Regions from separate parts of the Homo sapiens genome. Here all the other regions are linked to region 1. Evidence: fine-mapped expression QTL. A gene starts in region 1. Each other region holds a variant in brackets. All regions are shown on one strand. Distances are between the middles of the regions.

Evidence for each region. PIP is the estimated chance that this variant, and not a neighbour inherited with it, causes the effect.
Region 2: its variant is fine-mapped to the expression of DENND3 in whole blood (TOPMed, PIP above 0.99). The same link has a PIP of 0.9 or more in blood mononuclear cells, lung and monocytes.
Region 3: its variant is fine-mapped to the expression of DENND3 in whole blood (INTERVAL, PIP above 0.99).

The regions. Positions count from the first base shown.
Region 1 is chr8:141,125,108-141,133,285 of GRCh38, reverse strand. It overlaps DENND3 (DENN domain containing 3), which reads right to left and starts at 4,697. Exons shown (of 23, transcript NM_001352890.3): 1 at 4,477-4,697. The coding sequence starts at 4,578. DENND3-AS1 (DENND3 antisense RNA 1) reads left to right here and starts at 3,145. Exons shown (of 2, transcript NR_183310.1): 1 at 3,145-3,262; 2 at 6,815-8,178. RefSeq lists enhancers at 3,606-4,436, 5,270-6,101 and a silencer at 4,292-5,151.
Region 2 is chr8:141,186,408-141,194,585 of GRCh38, reverse strand. It overlaps DENND3 (DENN domain containing 3), which reads right to left. Exons shown (of 23, transcript NM_001352890.3): 19 at 5,440-5,600; 20 at 4,169-4,302; 21 at 2,137-2,255; 22 at 1,923-2,060; 23 at 1-553. The coding sequence ends at 353. Among named protein-coding and RNA genes, the nearest start is that of DENND3-AS1, 60 kb to the right of the region's middle. RefSeq lists enhancers at 1,460-1,960, 1,961-2,461. The variant C/T (reference allele first, on the strand shown) is at 4,218.
Region 3 is chr8:141,090,463-141,098,640 of GRCh38, reverse strand. No RefSeq gene overlaps it. Among named protein-coding and RNA genes, the nearest start is that of DENND3, 34 kb to the left of the region's middle. RefSeq lists an enhancer at 2,615-3,614 and a silencer at 3,860-4,093. The variant T/C (reference allele first, on the strand shown) is at 3,796.

The DNA.
Region 1 (8,178 bases):
CGCTCCCTAAGCCAGGATGCCCCCAAAGCCAAGCAAAACTAAACTCCCTGGGGTTCTCAGAACACACAGCACCTCTGCAATGACCCTGCTCTTCCATGGGCTCAGGCCCCAGCCCCTCGCTGCTCCACCTGCACGGGGGCAGACCCTCCACCCCCCACGCTCACTGCAGAAGGTCTCTGCCACCCCGCAGCCAGGACCACAGGCTCCTCCAGGCCTCCACCTCCCAGCTCATCACCCCCTGGAGCATCTCGGCCCTGCCCAGTGGTATTTTACCACCTTCCATTTGAGGGGATGCGGTGGAGCAGAGATTGTGTTGTATTCCTCTCTGTCCCCACATTTAGCAGAGAAGATGACTGAGGCGATATCGTTCCTCATTCACACTCCTGGCACCTGGTGATCTCTTAGAGGCATGCTCAGCCTGGACTGAACACTGGTGATCACACTAGACTCAACACCCCACCTGTCATTCCTCTAGTTATCTCTAGTCACTTATAATGATGTGCCCCAGATCCGATCAACTTGGCATTCAGTAGTTCACCATACACCTGTTTTTTCTCAGAATGAAATCTCTGTTGTCTTTTCTCAATGGACAAGCAATACAATCTCATTTTTAAAAATAACAATATAGAGGCCAGGCACAGTGGCTCACGCCTGTAATCCCAGCACTTTGGGAGGCTGAGGCAGGTAGATCACCTGAGGTCAGGAGTTCAAGACTAGCCTGATCAACATGGAGAAACCCCCTCTCTACTAAAAATACAAAATTAGCCAGGCATAGTCGTACATGCCTGTAATCCCAGCTACTCGGGAGGCTCAGACAGGAGAATCGCTTGAACCTGGGAGGCAGAGGTTGCAGTGAGCCGAGATGGCACCATTGTACTCCAGCCTGGGCAACAAGCGTGAAACTCCATCCCCCACAAAAAAAAATAATAAATATAGAAATAATAAAGGAGCTAATAGAAAGGGACGGCCCTCCCATAATTCCATGACACACTTTGCACAGGGTGGATACATCCTTCCCATTTTATGCCTTTTTGTGCATTTTATACATTTTAATGCATGTATAAACGTATAATTTTGTTTCATAAATGTAGTCATCCTACATAACAGGTTCCATTAGCTGTTTTAACTACTTCATGTGGCTGACCTCCCTGTTTACAACCGTACAGTATCACAATATCACAGCATGTGTCAACTCAGTCATGTATTGACCCAGCCTCCTCCTGAGAGATGTGTGGGTGGTTCTCAAGTCTTCACCACACTGAACAGAGCGGTGACACACACTTGCACGCACCCAGTTCTTTCCCTAGAATAAATTCCTAAAAATGGAAGTCTTGGCACAAGAGTGTTCCAAGGTTACTTGGTGATACAGGTTGTGGCTGCCCTGAACAACCAGACCCCGCCACCACCGAGACGCTAGTCACCTCTGCCAGTCTGCTGCAGGAGGTGAGGTCATTTCCCATTCTTCTGTCCCAGGTGCTGACTTATTAAACCCCTACCCAATAACCATCATTTTGGTTTTTAAAACTGCTAATTCAAAAGTAAAAACCAGAACACTCTAATTTACTTGAGTCACAGGTTAATTTCTAAGTTAGAGTACACAGTGGAATTCATCTTCACTATAGGATTGGCCATTATTAAGGGAATAAAACAGAAATTAATCAATTTTTTTATTGCTCTCCAACTGTTTAGTTAGAATTAAATGAAATTTTAAACCCAGTTTCTTAGCTCACTGGCCACACTACAAGCTCAGTGACCACATGTGGCCAGTGGCTATTGTACTGCACGGTGCAAAGAGAGGACACGAACTGCCATCACCCAGGAAGGCCAGCTGGCCAGTGCTGTTCTGAAACTGAAAGTCAGGACGATGTCCACCAAAAGCCATAAAAATGGAGCTTCACACGCAAGAATTATGCGGGTGACCTGTACTACGCAAGGTACTCAGAACACTTTCTACTCCTGTGTGATGGATTTATAATGGATCCTGTCACACCTATGTCTAGTCTCCATAGCAACCAATAATGGGGTTGGGGAGGGCTCTATAGTAAAGGGGTGGAGGGGAATGTAACTAACCACAGTAACTAACATTAGCCTGCATTCTCAAAGTCTCGGTCACCATTCCTAAAAAAACAAACACTACTCCCCCTTCTAGGAAATGAAACAAAAGGGCCCTCCACTATCCAACATGAAGCTGGATATTCCTCATACCTCCGGACCTCTGTTTTCCTGTGTCATCAAGAAGGAATGCCTGGGCCACAGAGAAATGGGGATTTGTAAAAGTCAAGGTAAAAATTATTTAAAAGCGGCCAGGTGCGGTGGCTCACACCTATAATCCCAACACTTTGGGAGGCCGAGGCGGGCAGATCGTGAGGTCAGGAGTTTGAGACCAGCCTGACCAACGTGGTGAAACCCTGTCTCTACTAAAAATACAAAAATTAGCTGGGCATGGTGGCACACGCCTGTAATCCCAGCTACTTAGGAGGCTGAGGCAGGAGAATTGCTTGAACTCAGGAGGCGGAGATTGCAGTGAGCCGAGATTGCACCATGGCACTCCATCCTGGGCAACAGAGCAAAACTCTGTCTCAAAAAAAAAAAAATATATTTAAAAGCCTTGGACATTCAAAATAGAACCGCCGAAAAAACATCTAAATAAATAAAATCATATGTTTGGTTAACTATAACATTAATATTGACCTTAAAAGTAGGATGGCTCCAAGAAATGGAATCCATCCCCTAACGCTCCTTATTTTCTTAGTCCTTCACTACTTTTCTCTCCACCCTTTGCCAAACCCCTAACAGAATCAAAAGACAGAGTAAAGAGGACAAAGTTAAGCATGCACAGTAGCAGACTGTCCATACTCTCACTTGACCTGGGAACATGAAAATGTTGCAGCGTGTTTAGTTCAGGAATGCACCACTGGCCAGGCGCAGTGGCTCACGCCTGTAATCCCAGCACTTTGAAAGGCTGAGGCGGGAGGATCACTTGAGCTCAGGAATTGGAGATGAGTCTGGGCAACACAGTGAGACCTCCTCTCTATTATTAACATAATAATAATAATAAAGAAATTGAAAAAAAGAAAGCACCACTGCAAATATTCCAGTTGATTCGCCCTGCCCTCAAAAGACATGTGTCACACCAAGCAACTAACACCCATGTTGTAACTGCCCCAGAGGAAAGACGTTCAACGGCTGAGGAGACCACAGCGGCAACTAGGTCACTTCCTATTCGAAGAAAAAGGAGGAGATGCCATCTGGCAAATTCGAGGTAGGGAGACAAATCAATCGATGACGTTGCGAGGAGACAGAGGTCAAACGGGATCTACTGACATGACAGGGCGTTGAAGGGAAGGAAAAGTTGAGGGAAACGAGGAAACTATTTCCATAGGAGAATGCTTTTTCACTGAAGTCGAAACTGGCTTGGTACTGACGCCCAGCAGGGGAAACTCCCCGGACACTCACAGACATTCATCTGGTTACTTGCAGGAACATCTGCCTTTCCTGGTGACACCCTCTGCCCTGCAGTCTTCATTTTCCCTGGATAGCCCAGCGTCATTTAAATACTCAGAAGCCTCTCTGCCTTTCTATGCTGTTGTCTGCAAAGAGATGAACGGACCTGTGCAGACGGCTGGCCAGTGACGCCGGGATCTCTAGGTAACATGACCCAGTCACGGTGTCACAGACAGGCGGACCAGGAGGAAACCAGAGACACAGATGGATTCCAGGGAAAGCCAGCGTTACAGAATTAAGAAAAGCTGGGGAAGAAAAAGGAAAACGAGAATTTCCAAAACTGCCGCTTTCCCAGCAGAAGGGAGATGAAGTTGTCACTTTGGCTGCGAGGGTGCAGAGATGGAGGAAGGGTTGGGGGTGGGGGTGGTACCGCAAGGGAGAAAAATAGCTATAGGCTTCATCGCAAAGGGGTTCATGCAGAATACGCGAGGCCGGCGGCTAACTCTAAGATTGCTCTCTCGTTATTCTGTGCCTGGTGCAAAACCCACTACTCAGGGGACAACACATCCCAGCATAAAGAATGAAATCATTTCAGCAGCGAGGGCTGGGCCCGCTAGACCGTGAGGCTCCGGCGGCTTCCGCCCGTTGTCTGGTGCACCCCACCTTCAGAAGCACCTGCCCAAGATGGGAGCGACTGAAGAGAGAGGCCCCAGAGACTCTCCGAGGGGCGGCACCCCCAGATTCCCGGCCGGCGGACCAAGTTCGCAGCTCTCAAAAGACATGTCTCACACCAAGGGCCCCGGGCGGGGAGAGGAGAGAAGAGGGGAGGGGAGCAGGGCGCTGCTCCAGGGCACCTGCCTGAGCTCGGGCGCGATCCCCGGCCACAGGCGCGCGGGGTCACCGCCGGGGGACCGGGACTCAGCCCTCGGAAAGTCCGCGCCAACCCACAGGGCACCCGGGCGCCCGCTCTCCGACTGCTGTCCCGGCTGCCGACTCGTGGCCCACGTCCGCCTCAGTTTCCCCGCCCCTCACCTGCTCGAGACTTCGGAGACTGTCCCGGGGGGCGCCCAGCAGCGCGCAGAGCTCCAGCAGCCCCGAGGGCAGCGACAAGTGCGGCGACGCGGCCTCCGCCATGGCTGCCCGCCGCCCGCCGCCAGTACCGCACTCGGGCGCCTCAGCCGCGCAGTCGCCCGCAGACCCCTGGGGACCAGCCGCGCCGCCTGGGGGCCGGGGGCGCTGCGAGCGCCGTCTGCGGGGCGGGGCTGGAGGCGGGGCCTGGAGGGGCGGGGCCCGAGCCGAGGCGGGGCCTGGAGAGCCCCAGAGGATACCGCGGGGAGACAGAGTTTGGGGGCGGGGCTTGACTGGGCGGGGAGGTTCTGGGCGGGGCCTGGAGTGGCGTGCCCGGCCCTAGGGACCGGGACTTGGGGGCGGGGCCGGTCCTAGGGCGGGTGCTGCTGGAGACCCGCGCGCGGTCGTCATTTCCTAACCCGCCTGCGGGCCCTGGCGCGTGCGCGGCGTCGGAGCAAGCGGCCCCTTCCTTCGGCCCCGCCCAGCCCCGCCGGCCGCCCGCTCCCTGGGGAACCGAGGGAGGAATGGGCGGGGTCCTCAGGTGCCCGGCGACGTCATCCAGCCCCCAAGGCTCCAGGACGCAAAGGGTCCCCTGATCTGGCAGTCCCTGGACCTACCCTGGAGAGCGTGGGGGGACAAAGGCCGGACGCGCCGCCCGCTGCCGCCTCCAGGAAGCCCTCCCTTGCCAGGACAGTGGAGTTGGCCGGGTGTGGACAGCAGGAAGGGCCGGCGGGAAGGGGGGGTGGAAAGAGCCACTCCTGGTTAATAACTCTGCGGGGTTAACCTAGGGCCGGCCATACTCAAGTACGGACTTGAGTAAAATTCAGCAGGAAAAGGAGCAGGGTGGGCGCCGCTAGAGGGAGGCTTCAGGACTGAGGGTCAGAGGCCCAAGGCCTGGCAGGGCCCTTCCCTGGTCAGCTCCAGGCTTGGCCTGATGCCCGGTGGGCCACGGGCCTCTTCCAGCCTCAGGCTGACCCCAGAGAAAGAGGACAGCCCACAAGCCCGGGAGGCCGGCTTGCTGCCTGGTCATTGCTGCAGAGCCTGGAGGGGGCCTGCGCTCAGTCCCCGCTGACCGTCCCCTCCCTTGACCCTGCCATAGCCATCTGTGTAACCCAGGGGAAATTATTCCAAAGGGACTTCCACTTCTGATAATCTATGATTCTATTTTCTAAAAAACAAAACTCTAAAATGCTTAATGTCAAACATCTGTCATCAGCTGAACAGGAAAAGGAACAGTAAGTACAAAGCAAGGCAACATCAGAAAAGGGAGCCCTGAGGAATTTCTCCCTCCTTCCCTGAGCCGGGTGAGGCCGTGACTGCAGCCTGACTCACAGGTTTTATTTCACTTATTAACCTAAAGATGGTGAGGATCTGCTGGTTCTCCCCCAGGCCTGGAGGCTGCCTACCATCGGTGGCTCTCATCGGTGAGCTGAGGCCACAGTTGTTATAGTCTCTGACTTCAAAAGAAAGACCGATTTCATGAACAATTGCCTGTCTCTCTCGACGGTGGCCTCGGTTTTTTGTTGTTGTTTTTCTGTTTGTTTTTGAGACAGAGTTTTGCTCTTGTAGCCCAGGCTGGAGTGCAGTGGCATGATCTCAGCTCACTGCAACCTCTGCCTCCCAGGTTCAAGCGATTCTCCTGCCTCAGCCTCCAGAGTAGCTGGGATTACAGGCGCCCACCACCACACCTGGCTACTTTTTGTATTTTTAGTAGAGATGGGGTTTCACCATGTTGGCCAAGCTGGTCTCAAACTCCTGACCTTAGGTGATCCACCCGCCTTGGCCTCCCAAAGTGCTGGGATTACAGGCATGAGCCACCACACCCAGCCTTGGTGGCCTCATTTTTAGCAGCCTCTGCAAAGCACACAGCCTGAATCCGTCACCTAGAGTCCCCAGCATGCAGGAGAGGCGCTCTCAACCCGGGCTGGAGCCATGAGCCACTCCCTGAGGGCACACAGGGCCTGAGTCTGGCTCCTGTGTGTTGCTGTGTGACAGGTGAGCTCAACAGCCCTAAGCCGTGACTTCCTGAGGGGCAGTGGTCAAGATCCAAGGGAGGTAAACACATGGCAGCTCTTGCCACCAGGACCCAGTAAGGCTCACGCGAGAGCAGGTCTCTGCTGTCCCTTTATCACCAAGAGGCCAAATGCTTTAAGGAAGAGAGCTCCAGCAGTGCACAGAGCTTGCAATCCACTCCTTTATGCCCCCTTTTCCTCCTCCTTAAAACCAGATAATTGGGCCAGATGACCTCTGAGGGGCTCCCAGTTCTGCACTTTTTAATACGCTCCCGTCTCTCATGCCACAGGTCCTTCCAAAGTGCCTACGGAAAGCTTTGTCCCATCCTTGAAAAATTGCTAATGGGTTTGGAGATACGAGGTGGAGATGACTAGCAATCAAACTCAAAGGTGGAAGTCACATCGAGGCAGATGAGCAGATGAGGGGACCTAGAGAAGAAGAGAGGTGCAAGGAGAGCCCAGCCAGCAGGAACATCTGCCCCAGTAGGCAGCACTGCCCCACATCAGAGTCGAGGAAAGCAAAGCTCGGATTGGATAAAAGAAACTTGCAAACACGGTCAGTGCTTACTGCATGTGGGCTCAGAGCACGTTACCCTCCTTCCCTGCATGTTCCTGTGAAACGGGTTTACTGCTCTAACTCTCAGGGACACTGTGAAGACCAAACGAGAAAATAGAAACAAACATAATTTATAAACCATAAAGTACTGACACCAAAAGAGGGGCGAGCACAGCATTGTGAATGTGCTGGTACTAAATGGTTTGTTTTAAGATGATTTTATGGTGTGTGAATTTCACTTGAATAAATTTTTTTAATGGAGTTCATGGGGACGCTGCAGGATGTCAATTAACTTTGGACATTTTAGCAGCGCTTTAGGTGTTAAAATTATTTTTTAAAAAATACAGGATGAAGGGAAAAGCTTCATGACATTGGATTTGGCAGTGATTCCTTGGATATGACCCCAAAAGCACAGATAACGAAAGAAAAAATAGTTAAATTGTCTTCATCAAAATTAAAACTTTTGTACATCAAAGAACTCTTTCAAAAGAGTGAAAAAGTCACAGAATAAGAGAAAATCATATACCTGATAAAGAATTAATATTCAGAGCCAGATGCAGTGGCTCATGCCTGTAATCCCAGCACTTTGGGAGGCCAAGGCAGGCAGATCACTTGAGATCAGGAGTTCGAGACAAGCCTGGCTAAAATGGTGAAACCCCAGCTCTACTAAAAATACAAAAATTAGCCAGGCGTGGTGGCGTGCACCTGGAATCCCAGCTATTCGGGAGGCTGAGGCAGGAGAATCGCTTGAACTCAGAAGGCAGAGGTTGCAGTGAGCCAAGATCACACCACTGCACTCCAGCCTGGGCGACAAAGTGAGACTCCATCTCAAAAAAACAAAACAAAACAAAACAAAACAAAGAGTTACTATTCAGAATATATTAAGAATTCCTACAACTCAACAACAAAAAAAAATCCAACCCAATTAAAAAATGGGCAACAGACCCAAATAGACATTTCTTAGAAGACACACAAATGGCCAATAAGCTCATGAAAACATGTTTAACATCACTAATCATTAGGGAAATGCAAATCAAAGCTAAAATGAGATACCACGTCACACTCATTAGGTGTTATTTTTTAAAAATAACACAACAA
Region 2 (8,178 bases), 61 kb before region 1:
GTGACTCGGCCAAGCTGCTGGCTCCAGTGCCAGCCCCTGGTTGTGGATTCCAGAACTTTCTAGGCAACAAAGTAACCTCCCAGCAGAGGTTATCACCAACAAGACGCAGCTGCCTGCCTGAGACACACCCCAACAGGAAACACCCTTGGTGCAGTTTAACCAGGGGGCCCGAAGGCCTGAGAGAAGGTGCGTGGCCATGGGTCTCGCGGCTGGCCACACGGTAAGTGGGCTCCATGCTGAGCCTGGGCTGCTCTGCCCTGCCACCCCTCCAGGCTTCTGCTCCTGGCAGGCTCTAGGGGGCAGCCAGTCCCCACACATAGGGCACAGTTCCACTTGGCAGACTCAGCCACGTTTATTCGCCTTTCCAAATGGCGACTTTCCCCTCCTCCCTGCCCGACCCACTCAGCACGTATCTGTCCTCAGCCGAGCACAGCGTCCTCACGGTGTCCATGTGCGCCACCAGCTCCTTCTCCACGGTCTTCCTCTCGGCGTCAATCACGTAGATTTTCCCCTTGGGTGTTCCCTGCCCCAGCCCTCGGCTGCCCACCCAGACCTGCCAGGGAGAAACGGGAGGGGTCAGCAGGGAAAGAAGCCCCTCCCAAGAGCACCAGGGCTTTGCCCGGCTACCCAGAATTGACGCGTGTGCCTCCAAATCTATGTCCTTCCTGGACAGGGCCTCTGCCGCCTGAGGGTCAGGGCCGCCTGGCAGGTGCACAGGACCCTTCTCGGGCTTAGAACCTAATGGCCGAGGGGCCTCTGGGGAAGAAGACTGCACTGCGTGCTGGAAAAGTGCTGGGGTGCATCTTAAGTGTTCTCACCAAACAACAGCCACCTGTGTGAGGTGACAGATATGGTAATTAGCTTGTGATTATTTCACAATGTATACTGAAATATCACCTTGTATACCTTAGATATATATAATTTTTATTCATCAATTATACCCCAATTAAGTTATGGGGGAAAACACTAAACGAATTCCGCCCCACCCCCGCCGTGTCTCCGACTTGCTCGGGGCCTGGAAGTCCAGCTTTCCTTCCAATTTCTCCCTTTTCGGATGAGAATGTCTAACCTCTGCCTGGCCCAGCCTTGTGTTTTGGGAAGAGACAGCCTGTTCTAGCTGCGCAGGTTCACGGTGCAAGAGGGGTTGGTTCTGCCCCAGGTGGGACCCGCCCACGGCTCACCCACATCGGAGGGCTTTGGCTTCACTTGGAGATTTGGGGCTCAGAACTGACACTGGAGGGACTGGGACTTCGGGGGATGTAGTGATGGAGGGGGTGTATTTTGCATGTGGAACAGATGTGGATTTAGGGGGCCAGAGGGCAGACTGTAATGGGTTGAACAGTGTCCCCCCAAATCCATATCCTCTGAACCTCAGAATGTGAGCTTCTTTGGAAGTAGAGTCTGCAGATAGTTCAGATGTGGTCACACTGGTTAATCCAGTACGACCAGCATCCCCATAAGAGACACACACAGGGAGAGAGAGTGCCATGTGGTGCAGGCACAGGTTAGAGTGCCACGTCCACAGCCAGGGCACGCCAAGGACGGCGGCCACATGAGCGGGTGGGGGAGAGAAGGGCCTGGAGTGCACGCTCCCCCCGAGCCCCCGAGGGAAGCGGCTCTGCCGACACCTTGGTTTTGGACCTCCAGCGTCGAGAACTGTGAGAAAATTAAGTTCTGTCATTTGAAGCCATCCAGTTTGGGGGAATGCGCTGTGGAGTGCTTGGACCACACCATGAAACCAGCACATGGTGACCTGTGGGCCCGTTGGCACCAACCCTGCACGTGCCTGTTAGGAGGGGAACCCTGAGAGGCGAAGGCAGGAGGGCACGAGGGCGTGCGGCTGGCTCTCGGGAGCATGGGGATGCGGCCAGGGCAAGCGAGACCTGCCGGGGATGCTGGGGATGGCGGGCCCTCCACCCTACCTGCTTCTTCACCCGGATCATGCAGTTGATCTCAGAGCAGTCCTCGAGGGGCACCCTCTGCGGGGGCTGGGCCAGGTCCTTCAGGCTCCAGATGTAAACCTCGCTGCGTCCTGCACAGGCCGCCCACAGCTGCTCCTCCTGAAACGCAGGGCACGGTGTGGGCTATGGGCCCCGGGCCACGCACATGCTGGGCCCACAGCCCCTGCTGGGATACCTCAGGAAGGAGCTGGAAGGCCAGGAAGGAGGTACTGGTGTCTTTGAAGTTCTCCTCAATCTTCAATTCTTGATGGAGGGATCCATTCATTTTCATGACCATGATGCTGTTACCTGTGCCTGTGGAAGGAAGGAGCTAGGATGGGGCCAGGCAGTGTCATTGGCAACATAAGACGCCAGCACCAGAGCCGGCCTCACTGCTCTTTCCAGCGTGGTGATGGGGGGGATCACCACGTGCCACCTGGCGCCTGAGGAATGCACAGGTGAGGTCTACTGGGAAAAAATGCAAGCTAGAACCCTGGGTCTTTAAGAAGAAATGAGGCTCACCAGAAAACGTAAATATATGGGCAGTTTCTTAATTTTTCTTAACTTTCTTGAAAGATCATTGACTGCTTAAGCAAAAATCTTAAAGAATGTATTATTGGGAGTACCACACTTGATACTGTTGTAAGCTTCTTACCCTATCCATGAAGCAGTATCATAGTTAGTTAAGGAGGAGGGTGATCGGTTAAGGTTGCATATTGCAATTCTTAGAGCAACCACTGAAAAATAAAACAAAAATATAATGCTTAAAAACAGTAAAGAAGATTAAATTGAACATAAAAATATTCAATACAAAAGAGGGCAAGAAAGGAAGAACAGAACAAATAACAGATGAGGGGAAGAAGGACAACCGTTGGCTTGCACCCAACCACGTCGCTACCGGCCCTGAAAGTGAGCGGAACAGTGGGCAGGGGCCTGCACAGGCGCTGCTCCCAGGGAGGCGTCAGCGGGCACCGGGCACACGACAGAGTGCTCAGCACCATCAGCCATGAGGGAGCCACAGATCCAAACCACAAGACGCCACTTCACTCCCGCGGGGACGGTGTCAGTAAAAACAGGTGAGAACCAGTTTGGGTGAGGATGTGAAGAAATGAAGCCTGAGACTGCGGGTGGCGTGGAAGCTGCTGCCGCCACTTCAGAAAACAGTCTGACGGTTTTTCAAACAGTTAAGCAGAGTGAACCCAGTGCCCACTTGGGGCAGGGGAAGGATGAGCATGTTCCATATGCACACAATGGACTATTACCCTGCAAGAAGGAACGAGCTATTGATATTGATACTCAGAACGTCAGCGATGAATACTATAAACATCCTGCTGTCTGAATAAAGCCAGATACAGAAGAAGGCCTACTGTAGAGTCCATTTGTAGAAAGTTCTGTAAAAACCAAATTCAGATGACAGAACTAAGAGCACTTGTATCCCCTGAATGGCGGCACGGCCTGGAAAGGGGCACAGACGCTTTCAGCTGTGACGGAAACGCTGCGTGTCTTGATTTGTTTCATGGTTATGTAGTTTAGATGTTTGTCAAAACACAACAAACTGAGCACTTTTTGGTGAGCTTTACTATATGTGAAACACGCCTCCATTACAAAAAAGAAAACATATTCCCAGCCGTCACTCATGTAATCTGGCACATGCCGAGGAAGACCTCAAAGTGCCGGCAACTTCTGTGCTCTGGGGCGTCCAGAAATGCAGACACAGCCGCCAGGCAAAGCACCTGCTCCTCCCATCGCCCCCCTGGCAAAATCCCCAGTCTGGGTCCACGGAGAGTCCCAGGCTGCAGCTCTGTGCCAAGCAGCCGAGGGGAACAGAGCACGGGCTCGCCAGCTGCCCCCAGGTGTGGAGACGTGACGCACACAGAGGCCTCCCAGGAGGAGCAGCCATGACTCCGGGGGACACATGGGCCAGCTTCAACCCCAGAGCAGGGCACAGCAAAAGCCAAGGTGAGGGACAGGAGAGCAGTGGTGCGTCCAGGCAAGACAGGCATCCCGTCAGCCGCTGGGTAGAAAGGCAGAGGGAGGCCTGGGGAGCCCCCAGGAGCAGCAGTGCAGGTGGAGTAAAGGTTGCTGCGACCACAGAAAGGGAACCCGAGTTTAAAATAAAGACTGGAAAGGCGTGAAGCAAAGGAAAGAGGCTTTCTGCTCTCGTTCAGCATCCTTTTCCCAGAGCAGGGAGGTAGGGTGCCCGCTCTGATGGCAGGGGCCGGACTTACAGCACCACAGGCGGCCGCCGTGCAGTCTGATGGACGTCAGGCCACCTCG[C/T]GGCAGCTGGAAGCGGCTGGTCACCTGCAGTGTGCTCACATTCCACACCAGCACCATGCCGTCCATGCTGCACGAGTACACGTTGCTGGGGGCACAAAACACACACACACACCTTTAACTTGGGCCCCTGAAAACACTGTGCACATTTTAACCCAAGAGAGAACCAAGTCGCCATGAGAGAAAATGTGCTCAACACGGATAACCTGCAAACATGATAATAACATGCAAACATAATAACCTGCAAACGTAACCTGCAAACATGATAATAACATGCAAACATGCTATGAATGCAGCCACAGCCAGGCTTGGCTCAAATGTAACTGACTCGGCAGGAAAAGGCGGGTTTCTCGGGACGCCCACCTCTCCCACCACCGCGGGCCGCAGGCTCAATGAGGTGTTGTCATAGAGCCATGACATGACCATGAACTGAAATGGAACCTCGTCAGCGGTCCCCGTTCACACAAGGGACCAGGGAGCCAGCACGATCCTCAGAGCTCTCGGGTGACATGGGCTGGCTGCAGGTGCAGGCGGCTGTGGGCGGGGCTGGGCTCGAGCCTGCACCCTGCGCCACCCCTGAACCTCCTGAGCCAGCTTTGCTTCCAGACTAGCACCTCCCTACCCACCCCAACAGGGCCTGACACAGGCGCCCCCGACACTAAGTCAGGGGAAAAAGGAGTGGGGAGTGTGGCCCCTCACCCAGGGCTGGGGCTGCCTGGACCAAGTGGGCAGCCTTGTGCACTTTCCCCACCATGAGCCTCTGCTCAAGGAGACCCCACCTCCTCCTCCCGTCTCCCTGGATGCCCCGTGTCCAGTGCTGCTCCCACTGTGGGAAACAGCAGCGAACAGGCAGCCCAAGGCCAACACTGAGCACTCAGGCGATTATCAGGCGAGTCCAGGCTTCTGACACCATGGCTGGTGCACCTCTGGGAGGCTGTGCCCTCTCGGGGCTGCCCCATGCCACAGTGCCCACAGCAAGCTCAGCAGGAAGGCCGGGTGTGGTGCCTTCATCACCACGCTTGGCCCACACTGGTGTCATGGGTTCTCCGCACCCGTGAGCAGAAGCAGACCGAGGACACCACCCAGCTTTCCTCGTTCTAGATCCACTTCACTCTGTACGCCCCGCCTGGCCCCTGTGGGCACAAGACTTGGGAACCCTACCCGCTGTGCCTTCTGCCCACCCACAAGCCAAACAGTCCCTTCTCCCCAGCAGAGCTTACTGCACCTGGGTGCCTCCTGTCCGTCCTGCACAATCAAATCCGTGACACTGGAGCAGTGGGCTGTGAGCTGCTTGTTGCAGGACATGCTGTGGACGTTGATGATGTAGATGACGGAGTCTTCCGAGCCAACCCACACCTGGTTCTGGTCGGCCATCACCATGCAGTTCTAACAGGAGGCCACGGGAACGTGAGAAATCAGTCAGTCTCGATACTGGTGAAGTCATATTCTATACATTTACTGCACGTGCTGAATTAGCGGATATGGAACCACTGCTCCTAGGGGACACGCCGGCTCAGGGTCCTGGGAGCCTCTGGCCCTGACGTTGTCATCCACCCATCAGTGCATAACCTTGTTCTCCGCGTGCTCTGTTCACAGACACCTTATTGACTACGTATGATTGATTCATTAACACGAAACCCACGGCCGCCAGCACTGTCACTGCGGCCTGAACCAAGCTCATCTCACACATGCATTTTCTCTGCAAGACACGTCACCGCCTCCTTGTGCTTAGGGAGCTCCATGCTTGAGGCTTTCTTAAATGGCAAAATCACCAACGAAAAGCAAAAAATGTGAAAACTGTGGCACCAATCAGGCCGAGGAGAGGACACTTGTTGGCCCAGAAAATCCATATCAGGTGACTCAAGTTTTTCCCCCGTCTGTGCACGTGGATGTCTGTGGATCACCAAGAAAATACCACGAGTATCTGTTTTGGGAGTTACAAGTAAATATTAGCAGGTGGTCGAATTTGCAAATACGGAATCTCCAAATGATGAGACCGACTGTATGTGAACAAGCAGAACTGGCAGTGCTCCCAGTGTCTAGAGAGTGCGCTCAGGGTTTCTGTCTAAGCTAAGCAAAGTCAACATAATGATTGCTTTTAGACTCTTTGAAATCAGAATTTTTATTTTTGTTTGTTTGTTTATTTTGAGACAGAGTCTCACTCTGCCACCCAGGCTGGAGTGCAGTGGCATGATCATGGCTCACTGCAGCCTCAGCCTCCCGGCTCAAGCGATTCTCCCGCTTCAGACCCCCGAGTAGCCGGGACTACAGCCATGGGCCACCACGCCTGGCTGATGCCACCACGCCTGGCTGATGCCACCACGCCTGGCTGATGTTTGGCAGTTTTAGTAGAGATAGGGTTTCCCCACGTTGCCCAGGCTGGTCTCGAACTCCTAGACTCAAGCAATCCTCCTGCTTCGGCCCCCCAAAGTGCTGGGATTACAGGCGTGAGCCACTGCGCCCAGCCTTGAAATGCTTATAACTAAGAACGAACTGAAAAAAATTAAATTTAGAAAAATAATTTCCCTAATTTTTCCTTTTTTTGTTGTTTGGTTTAAAGCATTACTAGACTTTTGTCAATATTTTTACTGTATCATGGATCCTATTACTTTATCATCTGAGGCTCATGATTTGAATATGGGGGGAAATGATTTAGCAGGCTCTTATTACCTTCTAACATGTAAAGTTTGCTATTCAGGTATCTCAAGAGTGGTCCCACCCTCTTGGTGGTATGTATTTGAGTTCACAGTATTTGTTTTATAGCAGTTTTGCAAGCACATACTGTGCCACGGATTTTCCCACATTATTTTTAGACAAGGGAACACAGCCATCAAAACTGATACCATGGCCGGGCGCAGTGGCTCACACCTGTAATCCCAGCACTTTGGCGGGGCCGAGGCGGGAGGACTGCTTGAGCCCAGGAGTTTGAGACCAGCCTGAGCAGCACGGTGAAACCCCATCTCTACTCAAAATACAAAAATTAGCCGGGTGTGGTGGTGCGCACCTATATAGCCCCAGCTACTCGGGAGGTCCAGGCTGCAGTAAGCAGCGATTGTGCCACTACACTCCAGCCACGGGCAATGGGAGAGGGACCCTGTCAAAAAAAAAAAAATGGTACCAGCCAATGCCTAATATATACTTAGGTATATACTCCACTGGAGTGTTCTTTTCACATTAAACATGTAAAAAAAAAAAAATCCTATCATGCTCAAGGAGTAAGGCATGAGGATTTCTCAGCAGATCCCATGATGGGGTGGCTGCTTGGAGGGTGACCAGATAGGAGGAGAGTGTAGATGCGAAAATATTTTGAAAACTATAAAATGCAATTTAAATGTGAACGTCATCTGCAAATCCATGAGCAAGAACAGGAGAAACATGGACAAAGGGCGCGCAGGCCACGGTGCGGGGGAGTGTGGGGTCTCAGAGCACGGGGAGCTACTCAGCGGCCTCTCGGGCGACAGGGAAGCGCACACAGATCCGCAGGGAGGGGCAGCTCACAGCGCTGACGGGCAAACAGGGAAAATCCCCAAGAAATGATGGTCTGCAGGCAGGAGGGGCCGCTGGGGGCCTGGAGGGATGAGCAGGGCAGGAATCCCAGCTTCCACACTCAAGATACCATGGTCATGGAAGAAGCGACACACCATGGCACTGCCAAGGACACACTACTAAAAATGTATTAACAGTTGCACTTGTTTTAAAATTATCAGAAACAATTCAAACTTGCTTTAAATCAGGGGTGTGCACTCTTGTGGCTTCCCTGAGCCACAGTGGAAGAAGAATTGTCTTGGGCCACACATAAAATACACTAACATTAACGATCGCTGATGAGCTAGAAGGAAAAAGATTGCAAAAAAAACTCAACATATGTTTTAAGAAAGTTTACAAATTTGTGTTGGGCCTCATTCAAAGCCGTCCTGGGCCACGTACAGCCTGCAGGCCACAGGTTGGACAAGCTTGCTCTAAG
Region 3 (8,178 bases), 35 kb after region 1:
TGAAGGAAATGTTCTCTGCAATGGGACAGTGAGGAACAATTTGGGAGTAAGCAGGGCTTTCTGGCTCCCCTAAAGCTGCAGTGCCAGAACCTGTCTGTTCACAATGTCAACCAATCACCTGTTAAACGTTTAAACACTTAAACCCTCGGGGACTCAGTTTTCTCATCTGTAAAGTGGGTGGGGTGGGGGTGAGCTGCTGTCAGCCATCAAGACACCCCCAGCTCACCTCTGTGATTCTAGCAGTGTCCTCTCACCTGTTTTGTTTGTTTTTAAAACAATTCCATTAAAAAGTGAGCAAAGGATCTAAATAGACAAATAGACATCTCTCAGAAGAAGACACACAATGGCCAACAGGTATATGAAAAAAATGCTCAACATCACTATCATCAGGGAAATGCAAATCAAAACTGCAATGTGATATCATCTCACCCCAGCCAGAATGGCTGTTATTAAAAAGGCAAAAAATAACAGATGCTGGCAAGGATGTGGACAGAAAGGGATTCATCCACTGGTTGGTGGGAGCATAAATTAGTACAGCCATTATGGAAAACAGTAAGGAGATTTCTCAAAAAACTGAAAGTAGAACTACAAACCATCCAGCAATCCCACTACCAGGTATTTAAAGGAAAGAAAATCCATCTATTAAAGGGATGCTTGCACCCGCATAAACATCAACTGCAGCACTATTCACAACAGCAAAGATACGGACTCAACCGGAGTGTCACCAACAGATGAAAAGATAAAGAAAGGGCGGTATATTTACACAATGGAATATTATCCAGCCATAAAATGAGAATAAAATCCTGTCATTTGCAGCAACGTGGATGGAACTGGAGGTCACTGTGTTAAGTGAAATAAGCCAGGCACAGAAAGACAAATGTGGCACGTTCTCACTCGTACATGGGAGCCAAAAAAAGTGGATCTCATGAAGGTGGAGAGTAGAATGTTGGTTAACAGAGGCTGGGAAGGGAAAGGAGGGTGGGGGAATGAAGAGAGGTTGGCTAACGGTACAAACATACAGTTAGATAGGAGGAATAAGTTCTAACGTTGGATAGCAGAGTAGGGTGACTCTGGTTAACAACTACTGTATATTTCAAAATAGCTAGAAGAGAAGACTTGAAGTGTATCCAACACATACAAATGATGCATACTCAATGCTGGGCGCCAGTGGCTCATGCCTGTAATCCCAACACTTTGAGATGCTGAGGTGGGTGGATCACTTGAGGTCAGGAGTTCGAGACCAGCCTGGCCAGCATGGCAAAACCCCTTCTCTACAAAAAATACAAAGGGCATGATGGCAGGCACCTGTAATCCCAGCTACTCAGGAGGCAGAGGCAGGTGAGGCTCTTGAACCCAGGAGGCCGAGGCTGCAATGAGCCAAGATTGCACCATTGCATTCCAGCCTGGGCGACAGAGTGAGACTCCATCTCAAAAATAACAACAAAAAAAGGCCGAGTGCAGTGGCTCACGCCTGTAATCCCAGCACTTTGGGAGGCTGAGGCAGGTGGATCACGAGGTCAGGAGATCCAGACCATCCTGGCTAACACGGTGAAACCCCGTCTCTACTAAAAATACAAAAAATTAGCCGGGTGTGGTGGTGGGCGCCTGTAGTCCCAGCTACTCGGGAAGCTGAGGCAGGAGAATGGCGTGAACCCAGGAGGCAGAGCTTGCAGTGAGCTGAGATCGGGCCACTGCACTCCAACCTGGGCGACAGAGCGAGACTCCTTCTAAAAAATAAAAAATAAAAATAAAAATAAAAAATTCCCTTTCCTCCCCAACAAGGAGGGCAACATCAGAAGTGCTACCTGAGCCCCTGTACAGGCTGGGAGGGAAATATTTCTGTAGTTTGAGAACCTTCTGGATCAGGCAGGAGGCCTGTGGAAGCGAAAGAGGAAGCGTCCTTCTGTTTACCTCCCTCTGGTGGCGTCACACTTCCTTGCTTTGTGCATAACCTGCAGGCCGGCGGCCCACCCGTCCCCTGGGAGCACCTGGCTGGCTCAGAGGTCTCTGCAAAGCAGCGCAGAGCAGGCTTTGGCTGCTCCCCCAGAAGCAGGAGCCACTCCTCTGGAGCCCGTGGTGCTCTCACAAGCGTGTCTTTAGTCCGGCCACCCTTGGCAACGGCGGCACAGAGGTCAGCCATCAGTGGCCAGCACATCCCACGGGGTGTTCCTCGGTGCAGGAGAATCAGGGGTGGCTGCAGCCAGGTCTCGGAGTCCTCCGAGAGGGCAGGGAATTCCAGAAGGCACAGGTTCCAGCCCCAGTGCCTGGTTTGAGAACAGTGTCTTAAACAATAGAATTCTTTGTTTCAAAGAACGTTTTAGGCAAATCCAAGTGAAGCTGGGTGGGCGTGGGAGCTCAACCTTCCACGTCCCCTCCTCCTGCCCCTGGGACTTATAGAGGAACTCAGGGCCTTGGAAACATGGGGCTCCCAGGTCTGGAGCAGTGGGGCCTCCCTGCAGTCTCTCTTGAAACGGTTGATGGTAGCCACAAGGGTCATGAGAGTAGCAGTTCCCAGGATGTTCCGCTACGTACTCCACACCCGTCCTCTGGTTCACTCTGTCCAGGGTGCCCTGGGATGCAGGCTGACCATGTCACCCACCCCTCTGGCCTCTGCCCCTACCTGTGGGGTTTACAGAACTCAGTGGAGTGGCATAGACGCCGCAGGTGCTCAGAAAGGACACATGAGAGAAAGCTCTTAGGACAACGCAGGGGCTTAATAATGACATGCTCAAACGAGGGTCCCATCTACCCTGGGAGTAAGGACATCTGAGTTCTGGTCTGGCTCTGTCCATAACTAGCCTGGAACCCCCACCCCAGGGCCTCAGTCTCCCCACCAGTGAAATAAGAGCCTGCCCATGGGGCTCTGCGGGCCCTCCCGGCGCTGACACTGCAGCTCTGCCACCGTCAGACGCAGCTGGCTGGGCCGAGTAGCAGCCTGGGCCCGGGAAGGGCTGCTTCTGCCCTCCGTGTGGCTGTGGGCAAGGCACTTCCCTCCCAGCCCCAGGTTCCTCCTCGGTCTGGGGAGGGTGTGATCACGTGGTCAGACACCATCAGGCCTGGGACCATCCCGCACCCCGGCTCTGGCCACAGCCAGGGTCACAGGAACTCTCGAGAGAAGGAGCTCCAGCTGGGACAGCAGGCAGGTCTGCAGGAAGGCCCGAGGTCAGGCTGTGAGACCCAGGGTAAGGCTGGGCAGGAAGCAGACTCCTGTGAGGACCTCAGGCAGTGGCCATGCTGGCCTCTCACAGAACTAACACCTAAGGGCAGGAGGGAGCGTCTGCAAAGCTCAGACCCTCCAGGGAGTTTCAGGCTTTTCTCCATTTCTAATCTGTGCGTGGTTCTCGGATCCAGCAGTTCTCAGCTGGGGGAAATTTTGGGCCAGGTGCGGTGGCTCACACCTGTAATCCCAGTGCTTTGGGAGGCCGAGGCAGGCTGATCGCTTGAGGTCAGGAGTTCAAGAGCAGCCTGGCCAACATGGTGAAACCCCGTCTCTACTAAAAATACAAAAATTAGCTGGGCATGGTGGCAGGGGCCTGTAATCCCAGCTACTCGGGAGGCTGAAGCAGGAGACTTGCTTGAACCCTAGGGGCAGAGGTTGCAGTGAGCCGAGATCACACGACCGCACTCCAGCCCGGGCAAGAATGAGACTCCATCTCAAAAAAAAAAAAAAAAAAAAAAAATCAACTGGGGTAAATTTTGTTCCCAGGGAACATTTGGCAATTTCTCGAAATGCTTTTGATTGTCACAACTGTTCGGGGTCTGGGGGTGCCAAGTGGCATCAAATGCGTGGAGGCC[T/C]GGGATGTTGCTCAGCACCCTGCAGTGCACGGAACGGCCCCTCACCAGAGAATGATCCCCAGATGTCAATGTCAAGGTTGTGAAACCCTGGTCTACCCCAAATCCCGTCCACTCTCCGAAGCCCTGCTCCGATTCCACCTCCTCCAGGAAGACATCCCTGGTCCCCAGTGAGTCGTTAGTGACTCCATTGGCCTTGTATCAGGTTTTCTGATATTCTCATTATTTGTGGTAGCAGCACAGCTCTCATTTCTCACCTTTTCACGCAGCCTCAGAGAAACATACAAAACATGTGTGCACCTTAGTGATTATCACAAAGTGAATTCTTTTGAACCGCCTTCCAGGCCAAGAAAGAGAACTTTGTTGCCCCTGAGTCCCCTGAGGTACAATAACAGCCCTGCCTGCTGTTAAGCAACCAGTGTCCTAACTTTTAGGGAAATAGCCTCGTTGTGGGTTTTGTTTTACAGGCTTATCACCCAACCATCCTTCTCTAGATAATGTAGTTTAATCTTGACGTGGTAGACCATTTTTTTTTTTTTTGAGACTGAGTCTCACTTTGTCAGCCAGGCTGAAGTGCAGTGGCGCAATCTCAGCTCACTGCAACCTCCACCTCCCCGGTTCAAGCAATTCTCCTGCCTCAGCCTTCCAAGTAGCTAGGATTACAGGCGCACACCACCATGCCTGGCTAATTTTTGTATTTTTAGTAGATGTGGGGTTTCACCATGTTGACCAGGCTGGTCATAAACTCCTGACCTCAAGTGATCCACCCCCCCTTGGCCTCCCAAAGTGCTGGGATTACAGGCGTGAGCCACCACGCCCAGCCTTGTAGACATTTTTGACGTGCCTTTTGATAAGTCTCTAGTCACCTGCAGGCTGCGCCTCCCTCCCTGTCTTTTCCTCGCCGTTTCCTGCAGCCCGCATTGTGTTGCTTCAGGTTCACTCTGCTGTTTGACACCCTCCTCTGTCCTCTACGTTCTCTGCAAATTGGCAGCTGGGTCCAGAAGCTCCGTCAGGCTCCTGTTCAGTCCCTTGGCGAGCCCAAAGGTTGCCTTGTGTTCCCACTGCAGGGCACGGGAAGGCCAGCTTGTCTCTCCCCTGGTGACGTCAGTAGCTCTTGATGCTCCAGGCCCAGGCCCATTAATTCATCAGGGGCTGCAATGATGCAATTCTGACTCTAATGTTCCTGTTTTAGTTATTCTGTGGCACCCTCTTAGAAAGAGATGCTTCTTCTCATCTGCTGCTGGCTACCCAGTGGCACAGTTCAAATAAGAAATGGGGCTGGGCCAGCCATAGTGGCTCATGCCTGTAATCCCAACCCTTTGGGAGCCAAGGCAGGTGAATCACCTAAGGTCAGGAGTTCAAGACCAGCCTGGCCAATATGGCGAAACCCTGTCTCTACTAAAAATACAAAAATTAGCCAGGCGTGATAGCATGCACCTCTAGTCTCAGCTACTCAGGAGGCCGAGGCAGGAGGATCACTTGAACTGGGGAGGTGGAGGTTGCAGTGAGCTGAGATTGTGCCACTGTGCTCCAGTCTGGATGACAGAACAAAACTCCATTTCAAAAAAGAGAAAAAAGAAATGCACCTTCTCTTCTTTACCAGTTTTGGGAGAGTGACTTAGTTCCCTCTCACCTTCCACCATGGAACAATCAAGGTTTTCTTATTTAATAACACTACAAACACTTGGATTTAAACATATTTGAGGTCGCACGGGTGGCTCCCGCCTGTAATCCCAGCACTGTGGGAGGCCGAGGCGGGCAGATCACCTGAGGTCAGGAGTTCGAGACCAGCCTGGACAAAATGGTGAAACCTTGTCTCTACTAAAAATACAAAAAAATTAATTAGGCATGGTGGTGCACACCTGTAATCCCAGCTGCTTGGGAGGCTGAGGCAGGAGAATTGCTTGAACCCAGGAGGCAAAGGTTGCGGTGACCCAAGATCGTGCCACTGGACTCCAGCCTGGGCGAAAGAGCAAGACTCCGTCTCAAAATAAATAAATAAATAAACAAACAAACATTTGAAAGCTTCAATCAATGGCAATGACTATCCTTTTCCAAGCTCAAATGGTTTGATCTTTGCCCAGTGGATGCCTCTTAAGTTGGCGGCAGAAGCCTTGGAGGTGGCCCTGGTGGCTTTGACGGTTTCGTGCTATGCAATGTGTCAGGGTGGCTCCACTCATCTTGCATATTTCCTGCTCCAGACCTAGAATCAGCCATTGCTCCAAAAAGCCCTGGTTTCTTGCTGTAGGAGTTTGTATTTCAAGACCACAGTGTGGATTCTAGGGATGCTCATTGCTACTGGGTTGGTCTTTTTTTTCCTTTAAGACCTTTACAGTGGACAGAGCTAGGAAATATACCAACATTTTTTTAAAACATAAAAGGGCCTCATGAGTTCAAACTAATATTTCCAATTAGAATTCAGGACTAGAGTTTTGACTTAAACCCTACTATATTACATTTGCCATCTTCTTTCTTCCACACTTAGAATTCTGCTTCTCAGGAAAATGAATGTACACTGTCTCTCATAGTTGTTTATTTGCTCTTTTCCACTTTACACACTCAATGGTCTTAGAATAACAATAGTAAAATCCTAATGACAACCACCACTACTGCTACTAATACTCTACCAGCATTACTGAAAACAATTACATTGTTCTCATATGCTCTCCCCATTCTCCACCCAGTTTCCTTATCCCATCTGTATCTACACGGTCAGAAAATGTAGCCATCACACGCAAAACATAGGTCCTAATAAGGGAAAAGGAGTGAGGCTGGCAAAAAAAAAAAAAACTCAGATAAGCTATAAGTCTGCCTTTCTTCTTGATCCAGAACACATAGCCCTCCTGCACAAATAACTCACAACCTTCCCACACCTGACTCATCACCAGACCCTTGGCTGATAGAAAAATGCAAGTTAGCTCGCTGCAACCTTGGTGTTAGCGATACTTCACATGGCCCACTCCAGCACACAGCACGAGCACCGTCCTGCGAAATCCCCAGCAAGCCTCTGTCTCCTGGCAGTCAGCTCCTCTCTTGCTGATCTGCCCATTGCACCCTTGCAACGTCTTTCTTTTCTTTCTTTCTTTCTCTCTGTCTCTCTTTCTCTCTTTCTCTGTTTCTCTCCTTCTCTCCTTCTTTCCTTCTTTCTTTCGACAGAGTCTCACTGTCACCCAGGCTGGAGTGCAACAGTGCGATCTCGGATCACTGCAACATCCACCTCCCAGGTTCAAGTGATTCTTCTGCCTCAGCCTCCTGAGTAGATGAGACTACAGCCATGCACCACCATACCTGGCTAATTTTTTTGTATTTTTAGTAGAGACGGGGTTTCACCATGTTGCCCAAGCTGGTCTCAAACTCCTGACCTCAGGTAATCTGCCCACCTTGGCCTCCTAAAGTGCTAGGATTACAGGCGTGAGCCACTGCATCCTACCTTTTTTTTTTTTTTTTTTTTTTTGAGACGGAGTCTCGCTCTGTCGCCCAGGCTGGAGTGCAGTGGCGGGATCTCGGCTCACTGCAAGCTCCGCCTCCCGGGTTCACGTCATTCTCCTGCCTCAGCCTGCCAAGTAGCTGGGACTACAGGCGCCCGCCACTACGCCCGGCTAATTTTTTGTATTTTTAGTAGAGACGGGGTTTCACCGTTTTAGCCGGGATGGTCTCGATCTCCTGACCTCGTGATCCGCCCGCCTCGGCCTCCCAAAGTGCTGGGATTACAGGCGTGAGCCACCTACCTTTCATACTTCAATAAATCTGCCTTTCTTTACCTACAACTGTCTTGGTAAATTCCTTTACTTCCAGTGACACTGGCCCCAAGTAGTCGCTATCCAAGACACTATACTCTCCTTTTCAGCCTTGGTTTAGCCTTGGTTCCTTATCTAGTGCTTCCATTGAGGACTCTATTGGTTGCCTGAAGGTCATTCTCTGATAGGCTCCTTGGGCCCCTCAGACCCTGAGAACATTATTTCCTGAGTCCTTTGGGGCTGCTTTTTGTTTGTGCCTTTTATACTCCAAAGTCTGTTTTGCTGGGTGCATAGTACTTGGCTCACATTTTCTCTCGAGTATTTTAAGTACAGTATGTTTCTCCTTTTTCTTCTGGCAGAACGTGTTGTGGTTGAAAAGTCGCACGACAATCTAATTTTTATTTTAGTATAAGTCCCTCACTCTTTTAACCTGGACTCAAGGATTTTTTTTTTTTTTTTAGATTGGTAATTTTACTAGAACATGTTTTGATGTTGGTTACCCTGGGTCTGTCTTCTCAAATACATGGTGTACTCTTTCAATATGTAGTTCCAAATCTTTTTGTTTTAGGGAAGTTTTCTGAAGGTACAGATGTTTGTATTTATTCTGTTCTTTCCCTAGGGTCATCTCATGGGAAGAGATGTTAGTCTT